Linked DNA regions of Homo sapiens: region 1 is linked to region 2. A link means that fine-mapping ties the variant in region 2 to the expression of a gene that starts in the linked region. Tissue or cell type: tibial nerve. Region 2 holds a variant in brackets; the other region holds the start of a gene. All regions are shown on one strand. Distances are between the middles of the regions.

The links. PIP is the estimated chance that this variant, and not a neighbour inherited with it, causes the effect.
Region 1: it holds the start of G2E3, and the variant in region 2 is the best candidate, but not a certain one, in a credible set for the expression of G2E3 in tibial nerve (GTEx, PIP 0.75).

The regions. Positions count from the first base shown.
Region 1 is chr14:30,557,023-30,561,271 of GRCh38, forward strand. It overlaps G2E3 (G2/M-phase specific E3 ubiquitin protein ligase), which reads left to right and starts at 2,136. Exons shown (of 15, transcript NM_017769.5): 1 at 2,136-2,250. It overlaps G2E3-AS1 (G2E3 antisense RNA 1), which reads right to left. Exons shown (of 4, transcript NR_151720.1): 3 at 3,715-3,813. RefSeq lists an enhancer at 1,802-1,991.
Region 2 is chr14:30,725,937-30,730,185 of GRCh38, forward strand. All of the region lies in intron 23 of SCFD1 (sec1 family domain containing 1), which reads left to right. Among named protein-coding and RNA genes, the nearest start is that of SCFD1, 110 kb to the left of the region's middle. The variant C/G (reference allele first, on the strand shown) is at 1,818.

The DNA of each region.
Region 1 (4,249 bases), 170 kb before region 2:
AACCTTGCTCATAGAGTTGTATAAAGAAAATCATATATATATATATAATCTTTTGGGTGGCTTTTCCAGGGCATTTTTAACTTTTGTATACAGGTCAACTTGAGAATTTAATTCCTGTGAAGGATAAGAATGGTGGGAAGGTGCCAAGAATTATGAAAGACATAGGAAAATATATAACATAGTTTCTGCCTTCAAGAAACTTCAAGGAGCAATATATTTAACGGGGTCATATTAGATATGTAAACATAAAATAATACACTATATCATGAATGACAAAATGTGTGGTCAAATCATTATATGTAATTGTAGAAAGAACTGTTGAATGAATGAATGGACATAGACTATCCAAACATTAGAAATTTATACGCTCATTAAACCTGATTTTGTATCTAGAATGTATTCAATTTCTAGCAATCTTCCTTAAAGAACAAAATTGCAAAATTAAAAAAAAAGTTTATTATCTTAAAAATTCAACTGGTGATAAAGTGAAAGGTAAAAGTTCTCCATCTCTTCCTACTCTTATTTACCAGCCCGCTCCCAGAGATGTTTACAGCTTAGGTATCCATCCCAAAACTTTGTATACCATATACACACACATACTTTCAAACAAGGATACTACAGTCCTTCTTAAACTTTTTCAGTATTTCATTTCAGTACCCGCTGATCTACTTCATTACTTTTAGTGCCCGCAGCGTCAGTATATCAGATGCTAAAGTATCATAACTTACATGTATTTAACCCCTTCCTTATTTGTAGACACAGATTATTTTCTATCTTCCACTGTTAAAAACAGTACATCAGTTAATAGCTTTACACACCCCCTGTGTCAGATTACCTGTAGCATAGGTTCTCAGAAATCTAGTAAACCTTTCAAACTGTATTTTTTTTTTTTTTTTTTTTTTTTTTTTGAGACAGAGCCTCGCTCTGTCGCCCAGGCTGGAGTGCAGTGGCGCAATTTCTGCTCACTGCAAGCTCCGTCTCCCGGGTTCACACCATTCTCCTGCCTCAGCCTCCCGAGTAGCTGGGACTACAGGCGCCTGCCATCACGCCCAGCTAATTTTTTGTACATTTAGTAGAGACGGGGTTTCACCATGTTAGCCAGGATGGTCTCGATCTCCTGACCTCGTGATCCACCCGCCTCGGCCTACCAAAGTGCTGGGATTACAGGCGTGAGCCACCGCGCCCGGCCCTCAAACTGTATTTTTGACAAAGGCTAAAGGTATGCTGTCATGGTTTGGTTTGTACTGATCCGTTTAGGTAATTCAATGTTATTAGATGTGAGGATGATCTGGTGGCAACATCAATCACAGCCATAAAGGTCAGAGTTATTTAGCGCCCCTCACCCCCTAGCATTTCCAGTCCTTCCTTTAGTTTCTGGAAGCTCCCAGATGTCTCTTCAGAAGCTTAAGACGTTTTGGATCAAAGACATACTGTGGTCCTCGATAAAGGAAAAGATACTGTTGTTTCAATAATCTCACGGGACAATACTTAATAATCTCGTAAAGTGAGCCCTTATCTGAGGGGGGAAATAAAATTTATTGCCTTCTAACACCATCAAATAGTTTATTTGAGACCAGGAATTGGTCCGACCACTTATTTTCAACTTTTGGCTGAATACGGGTGAACTTGGCTTTTTGTTTTCCCTAAACCCAGGACAGAAATAAATTAAAAGCCCTGACTGTGCCGGGATAGGACTGAGAGGCCCAGGAAAGGCTGCACTAAGTACTTGGAGGGTTTGTTTTTTTCCTTCTTGCTGCTGCTGCTGTTTCCTCGAGGATGAAGGGAAAGATAAAACCCTCCTGCCTCCGTTCGTGCTTTCATTCGCCCCATTCCTCGAAGGTGACGAAACTTCAGCACATCTCTGTCCATTTTGGAAAAAAGAGGATCCCCTCAAGAGCAAATAGGCGGAAACAATGACCCCGCGCCCGGAGTTTTTCTGAGCTCCTAAATAGGGAGAGAGACCCGACAAAACAAACAAGCGAAGGCGACACAGCCAGGTTAGCACCGAGCAGCAGCGCAGGAGCGCCAGAAGGGCGGGAGCACACGGGCCCTTCCCCACAGCCAGCGCCTCCGCGGGTCCCACCCCTCGAGGGCGGGGCCGACCGCTCTTTCCGGGTTTGCGAGCGGAAGTGGACGAATTTGAATCCTGTGGGCCGTTGAATGTGGCTGCTCGCGGTCGGCGTGCCCCGACGTACAGCGGGCCGGGAAAAGTGGCACTGAGGCTCTGGAACTTCTGCCCAGCTCTCCTTGGTGAGTAAATGGGGAACGGGAAGACGCAGAACGTTCCAGAGAGAGAAGCAGGACCGTGGGGTGGGAGAGGGTGTCAGGAGGCCGGACGTCGCAGCCGGGGCCTCGCAGTGCTTTTGGGGACGTCTGGTGCTGGGGCCCGGCCTGGAGACTAAGGGAATTCGGGGCACTGGGGGCGTTTGCTGGACCAGCGCTCTCGACGGTTGCGCACGCCAGCCAGCTCTCAGTGTTGAGGATTCGGAGGCCCTGCCGGTCCCCCGCGAGTAAACCTTGTTTATACGCATCCTCCGTGGCTTTTTTTAAACCCGTAGTTTATTATTTCCACCAATTCGGCTCGAATGCTGAAATTTTAACAGTAGTTAAATCTCACTGTGAAGGCGTTGCCACGTTTAAACAAATCTCTTTTAATGAAAGATGGAAGGTTGGGGCGGGTTTAGAATGAAAAGATGCTCTACGTGGCTCCGCGTTCCTCCTGAGAGAGATACCCGGGCAACCTTGATTAACTCTGGACTGCAGGGAAGTGACAGTCTTTGAAATGCCTGAGTGGGATTTAAACTGAAATTCGAGTGTCCTTTGTATTTAAAACCCGGATATTTTTCTTTCACGGTTGACATTTTTCATGTACCGCAAAAATCCGAGACTCCTATTTAAACCGGCTGTGGTAACAGCGGTGGTGATTAACTAGGGTCTTAGTTTGCAAACAATAGGGATAAGGTTTAGTTCCACCGCCCTGCCTTTTCGCCTCCCTCATTCATTGGCCAACTGGGTTATTATGGAGTCTTTTTGGAAGTAATCCACTAATGCTTTGAGCATCTGTTTCTTTGGGTTTTATTGTTTTGGGCTTTTTTTTTTTTAATTTTTAATGATGAACTATCTGAAATATGGAACTCTGTCTAACCCAGTAGTAAAGTCATGCCTTCTGGAATGGTTTAAAAGTGTGCCATAAATGTAAACTATAAATGGGAACTTTAAATGTGTACAAGTTTTACATCTTTATTAAAAATCGTCAGTTTTGTGTAGCTTAATACGAAAAGATATTTTAAGTTCCTTTTAAGGTTTTAACACCAGGATATTGTACCATTTAAATGTATAAATATATTTTTAAAAGTAGGACTTCATAATAATCAGAATAAAAACATTCCTTCATCCAGTGCTGGCTATTCCAGCACCCCCATTCTTCCTGCTATTGAACTTTTAAGTGTTAGCCAGGAAGAATAGACTTAAATACTCGGTGTTTAGGATAGTTAAAATATGAGCATTTTTCATATAGTGTCTTTGTAACAGAGACATTGGCTATACTTCTCTAAGCCTTTCTGCTCATTTCATATGTGCTGTCAACAAATGGTAATTTTTAAAAATTGATCGCTATATCCTAATCTCTTTATTTTTTTCTACCTGAATTATTTTCATTGGATTTTTGCTCTTTCTTAAATCAGTGAGTTTCAGAATTTATTGTGTATACACTACCTTGAAGGATTTGTTCAACAATGCTGATTCCTGCACTTCAGATCTCAGATTCTGAATCAGTAGGTCTGGAGGATGGCATTGAACAGTCTGCATATTTAACTGAAAGGTTAGAAAATACTGTGAGTTTTCAAAACACTGATTTGATCTTTCCTAGAAAGGCATTATAATGTGTTGATTAAAGACATGGAACTGGGGCCAGATTGCCTTGGTTTGAAGCCCATCTCCACCACTTGATAGCTAGGTGACCCTGGGCAAGCTGTTTAACCTCTCTGCTTCATTTCCCTCTACCGTATGATGAGGTTACCTACTTTGTAGGATTATTGTGAGGATTGAATGAGTTAATATATACAAAGACCTTAAAATAGTGTGTGCCACATAGCAAATGATACATAAGTCTCCAATTACATTGAGTTACTAAACTGTAAAAACCGCATCACATACATTCTCTCATTAATCTTTACAATATCGCTGAGGTAGTTACTATCTTCAAATAAGAAAACAGGCTAAGAGGGGCTCGGTAATTTGTTCTCACACA
Region 2 (4,249 bases):
GGACTATATTCATCACTAGTTAGAACATTTCATTCAGGTTTGGCCAACAGTTAGCAACATGACTGGTTCCAGGTGTTCCCGGGGATAAACACATGGTTGCAATAGACACTTACGCATTCCACACGCTCTTACCCTTGGTTAAGCTTTTTAAATCACTTGTCATCATTCTTCTTTTGGCATCTTTTACATTATATAACAGAAAAACAAGAAGATAAACACCAAAATACTAATCATTTGTAGTTACTGAAGTAGATTATAACTTTTAAAAAAATTGCAGTTTACCAGATAATCCAGTGAAAACTTGTTCTTAATCATGTACAAGCTTGACAGTTTTACCTCTTTCTACCACAGAAAGTTGAGTTTTGTGAAATTTTATAACAATTATTAATCTAGTTATTTCTCTGATAATCTAGTCTTTTACCAGAAGACCATCTTGTAGGGATTTTAATTCAGTTTCCTTATACATTTGCTCATTCATTTGGTCATAGGATGTGTTCATATGAACCTCACCAATGATACCATTTGCACCAAGTAGCAATTACATTATGATTTAGATTGCTTACTAAATGTTTTCTCATCTTTCTCAACAAAATCAGCTCTTGCTTATATACCAAAATGTTGTAATTGACTGAGGCACCATAAGTTTCCCATAAATTCATTCTTTTTGCTCGCTCTGCCAAGATACCAGGCCATTTTCCTTGCACTACCTTGGCTTTTAATTGAGGAGCGTACTTAATCCTTCTTGAGTCTGGGTACATGTGTCTTCCCATCTTTATGTAACTGTTGAGTTTGTTTTATCATTTTTCCAGGCTGCTTGCCACCATTTCCCTTCCTCCTGAAATAACATTTCTTGTCAACAACCAGTAGGTCATTAAGTCGTCTTGCTCAGTATGTCTCTTTTCATTAAAGGCAAATCGGGCTTACCATAGGACTCATAGAACTGTGCCAGTGTTTCTGCCCAAATTGGTTTAACCATTAAATAAGTTGTTGCCATTGAGTTTTTATTGCTTGAATATAGTTTGAATATACCTTTTGGATCCAAAATCTTTCAGGAACCTTTTGAGAGATGGCGGGCGAGGGAAGACAAAAGTTTTCAGTTCCCCGAGACAGTGTCTTATGAGTAGTAATTATTCTCAGCAAAAGATCAGGGCTATAAGTGTGTAAGCCCACCTAGTTATCCTTTACTTGGTTTCAGTACTAAGAATTTTTTTAACCTTAGTGCCTTCCGCCCACAGAAACAAGGTACATAGGCATTAGAGCACATGTTACTATGAGTAGTTGGAAATGCAGCAGTTATTTTATGTCTGTGTTTCTGGACACCTTTCTTAACAAATCATAACTGCGTTTAATAGTTACGTGGTGGTCTGTGACTTCGTTGTTCAACAAAATCGTTTGTGTGCATTTCAGAGACAACGTGTCCTAATTTTGCCTCCCAAAAGTGGTTCTCTACAATAGATAAAACCAATGGGAGCCAAAAGGCAAGCATTAGAATTATTCTGTGTTTATCCTCAAGATGTTGTTATTAGCATCATCAAGATTCAGACAAAATTCTACAGATTAAATTATTAAATCTCCTGCAACCCATCTTAGACAGCTTCAAATAAAGGAGACAATTTCATCAGGTCTTATGGGCATCTGTAAATATAGCTAAGAGCATTCTCTTGCTCCCAGGCTCTTACGAGATACCAAAATAATGTTACCTTTCTTTTTTGCATTATTCATTTATTGGCTCCCTTTCTGAGAGTAAAGACTTTTCCTCCTTTCTCCTGTTGTTAGTTTTTTACCCAGACCTTGATCCCTGAGTTAGGAGACCATCA[C/G]ATTCGGCAAGAGGACTTACCTGTGGAGCTGACAGCAATGTGAGACTGGCCAGTGCTTTTCCCCTTTGTCCATTCCCAGTCACATGATGTTGAGGTGGATAACTACAAGTTTATAGGACTGTCTTGTCCACATGTGAGGAAAGATGAAAAAAAAACATTAATTCCAAGCTTAGATAGGTGAAAATAAAAACAGTCCATTCCATCATTCCTCAGACAGTTATATTTAGAGGTATTATCTTCATGTCATGTTTGCAACTGATCCGTCTTCCTGAGCTTGTAAATGTAATCCATATCCATGTTCTACATGATCAGTCAGAGAAAAAGAAAAATGTTCAGAAATATGGAGGAAATTGTTATCAGTTCCTGTGTTATTACTCCACCCCTCCCTTATTTTTCCTGAAGTATCTCTATAATCTGTTTAGTGTTGAGTCCCCCTTTAATTTCATGCCTTTTATGTTTTGACACACATTCCATCATGCAACTCTGTCTCTCATTACCACTTTGAAAAGTGTTTCAAACATTTGCTCCAATACTTTGTGTTTGGTAAGGTATATAAGTTAGTCTGTGGTAGATAATGGTTGTTAGCACATTGTTGAACTGCACCTGCAGTAAAGTGAGTTTCTTTATCAAATGATATATAAGTAGGAGGTCTAAATTGAAATTGTTTCTGCTGCGGCCTCTAATAATGTTAAAGGTGATTCCTGCAGCTAACAGGTATACACATCCAAATGAGTGTGTATTCTAGACAAGACCTGTTGCTGTCCACGTGGAACCATAGATAATGGCCACCATAATTCTGTGTGAATGTATGTTTTCACTTCTTTTAGGTATATACCTAAGAGTGGAATTGTTGCGTCACTTAGTAACTGTAATCATTTGAAGAACTACAGACTGTTTTCCAAAGCAGCTGCACCATTTTACATTCCCCCCAGCAGTGCATGAGGGTTCTCACTTCTCCACTTCATTACTAACACTTGCTTTGTTATCTATATTTTCCTGATGACTTACGAAGTCAAGAATCTTTTCACATGTGTATTGGCCATTTGTATATCTTTGGAGAAATGTCTGTTTAGATCCTTTGTCCCTTTTTTTTTTTTTTTTTTCCCCCCGAGACGGAGTCTCGTTCTGTCACCCAGGCTGGAGTGCAGTGGCGCAATTTTGGCTCACTGCAGCCTCTGCCTCCAGGGTTCAAGCGATTCTCCTGCCTCAGCCTCCCAAGTAACTGGGATTACAGGTGCACACCACCATCATCCACCTTGGCCTCCCAGAGTGTTGGGATTACAGGCTTGAACCACCACGCCTGGCCCCTTTGTCCATTTGTCCATTTTTAATTGGGTTATTTTGCCTTTTTATGATTGAGTTGTAAGAATTCTTTATGTAATATTGATACAAATCCCGTATCAGATACATGATTTCCAGATTTTTTCCCCCATTCTCTGGGTTGTCTTTTCTCTTTTTGTGATGGTGTCTTTTAAAGTGCAAAAGTTTATTTCGGCGAAGTCCAGTGTATCTCTTTTTTTCTTTTGTTGCCTGGGCTTTTCGTGGCATATCTAAGAATCCTTTGCCAAATCTAAGGTCATAAAGATTTGACCCTGAGTTTTCCTCTAAGAATTGTATAATTTTAAAATATGGTATGAAGATCCAGTTTCATCTTTTTGCATATCCAGTTGTTCCACTGCCATCTGTTGAAAAGACTATTCTTTCCCCCATGTAATGGTTTTTTGGCAACCTTGTTGAAAATCACTTGATGTGTATGGGTTTATTTCTGAACTCTCAATTCCATTATTTGGATCTATAGGTCTTTTCTTGCACCAGTATTACACTGTGTTGATCATCATGGCTTCCTTAGTATGTTTTTGAAATCAGGACACATGTGAGTCCTACTTTATTGTTTAGGCTTTTCTGGGTCTTTTGCAATTTTTTATGAATTTTAGAATTTGCAAATGTCTACAAAGACTGTGTTAAATCTCTGGATCAGTTTGGGGAGTATTTTCATCTTAATGTTAATTAAGGCTTCTGGTCCATGAATAGGGGATGTTTTCCTTTTATATCTTTAATTTCTTTCAATAATATTTTGTAGTCTTCAGAGTATATTTTTATGCTGTTACGAAAGGCATTTTTTTTTTTTAAGTTCTAGGGTGCGTGTGCACAACGTGCAGGTTTGTTACATGTGTATAAATGTGCCATGTTGGTGTGCTGCGCCCATTAACTCATCGTTTACGTTAGGTATATCTCCTAATGCTTTCTCTCCCCGCTTCCCTTACCCCACTACAGGTCCCGGTGTGTGATGTTCCCCTTCCTGTGTCCAAGTGTTCTCATTGTTCATTTCCCACCTATGAGTGAGAACATGCAGTGTTTGGTTTTTTGTTCTTGCTATAGTTTGCTGGGAATGATGGTTTCCAGCTTCATCTATGTCCCTACAAATGACATGA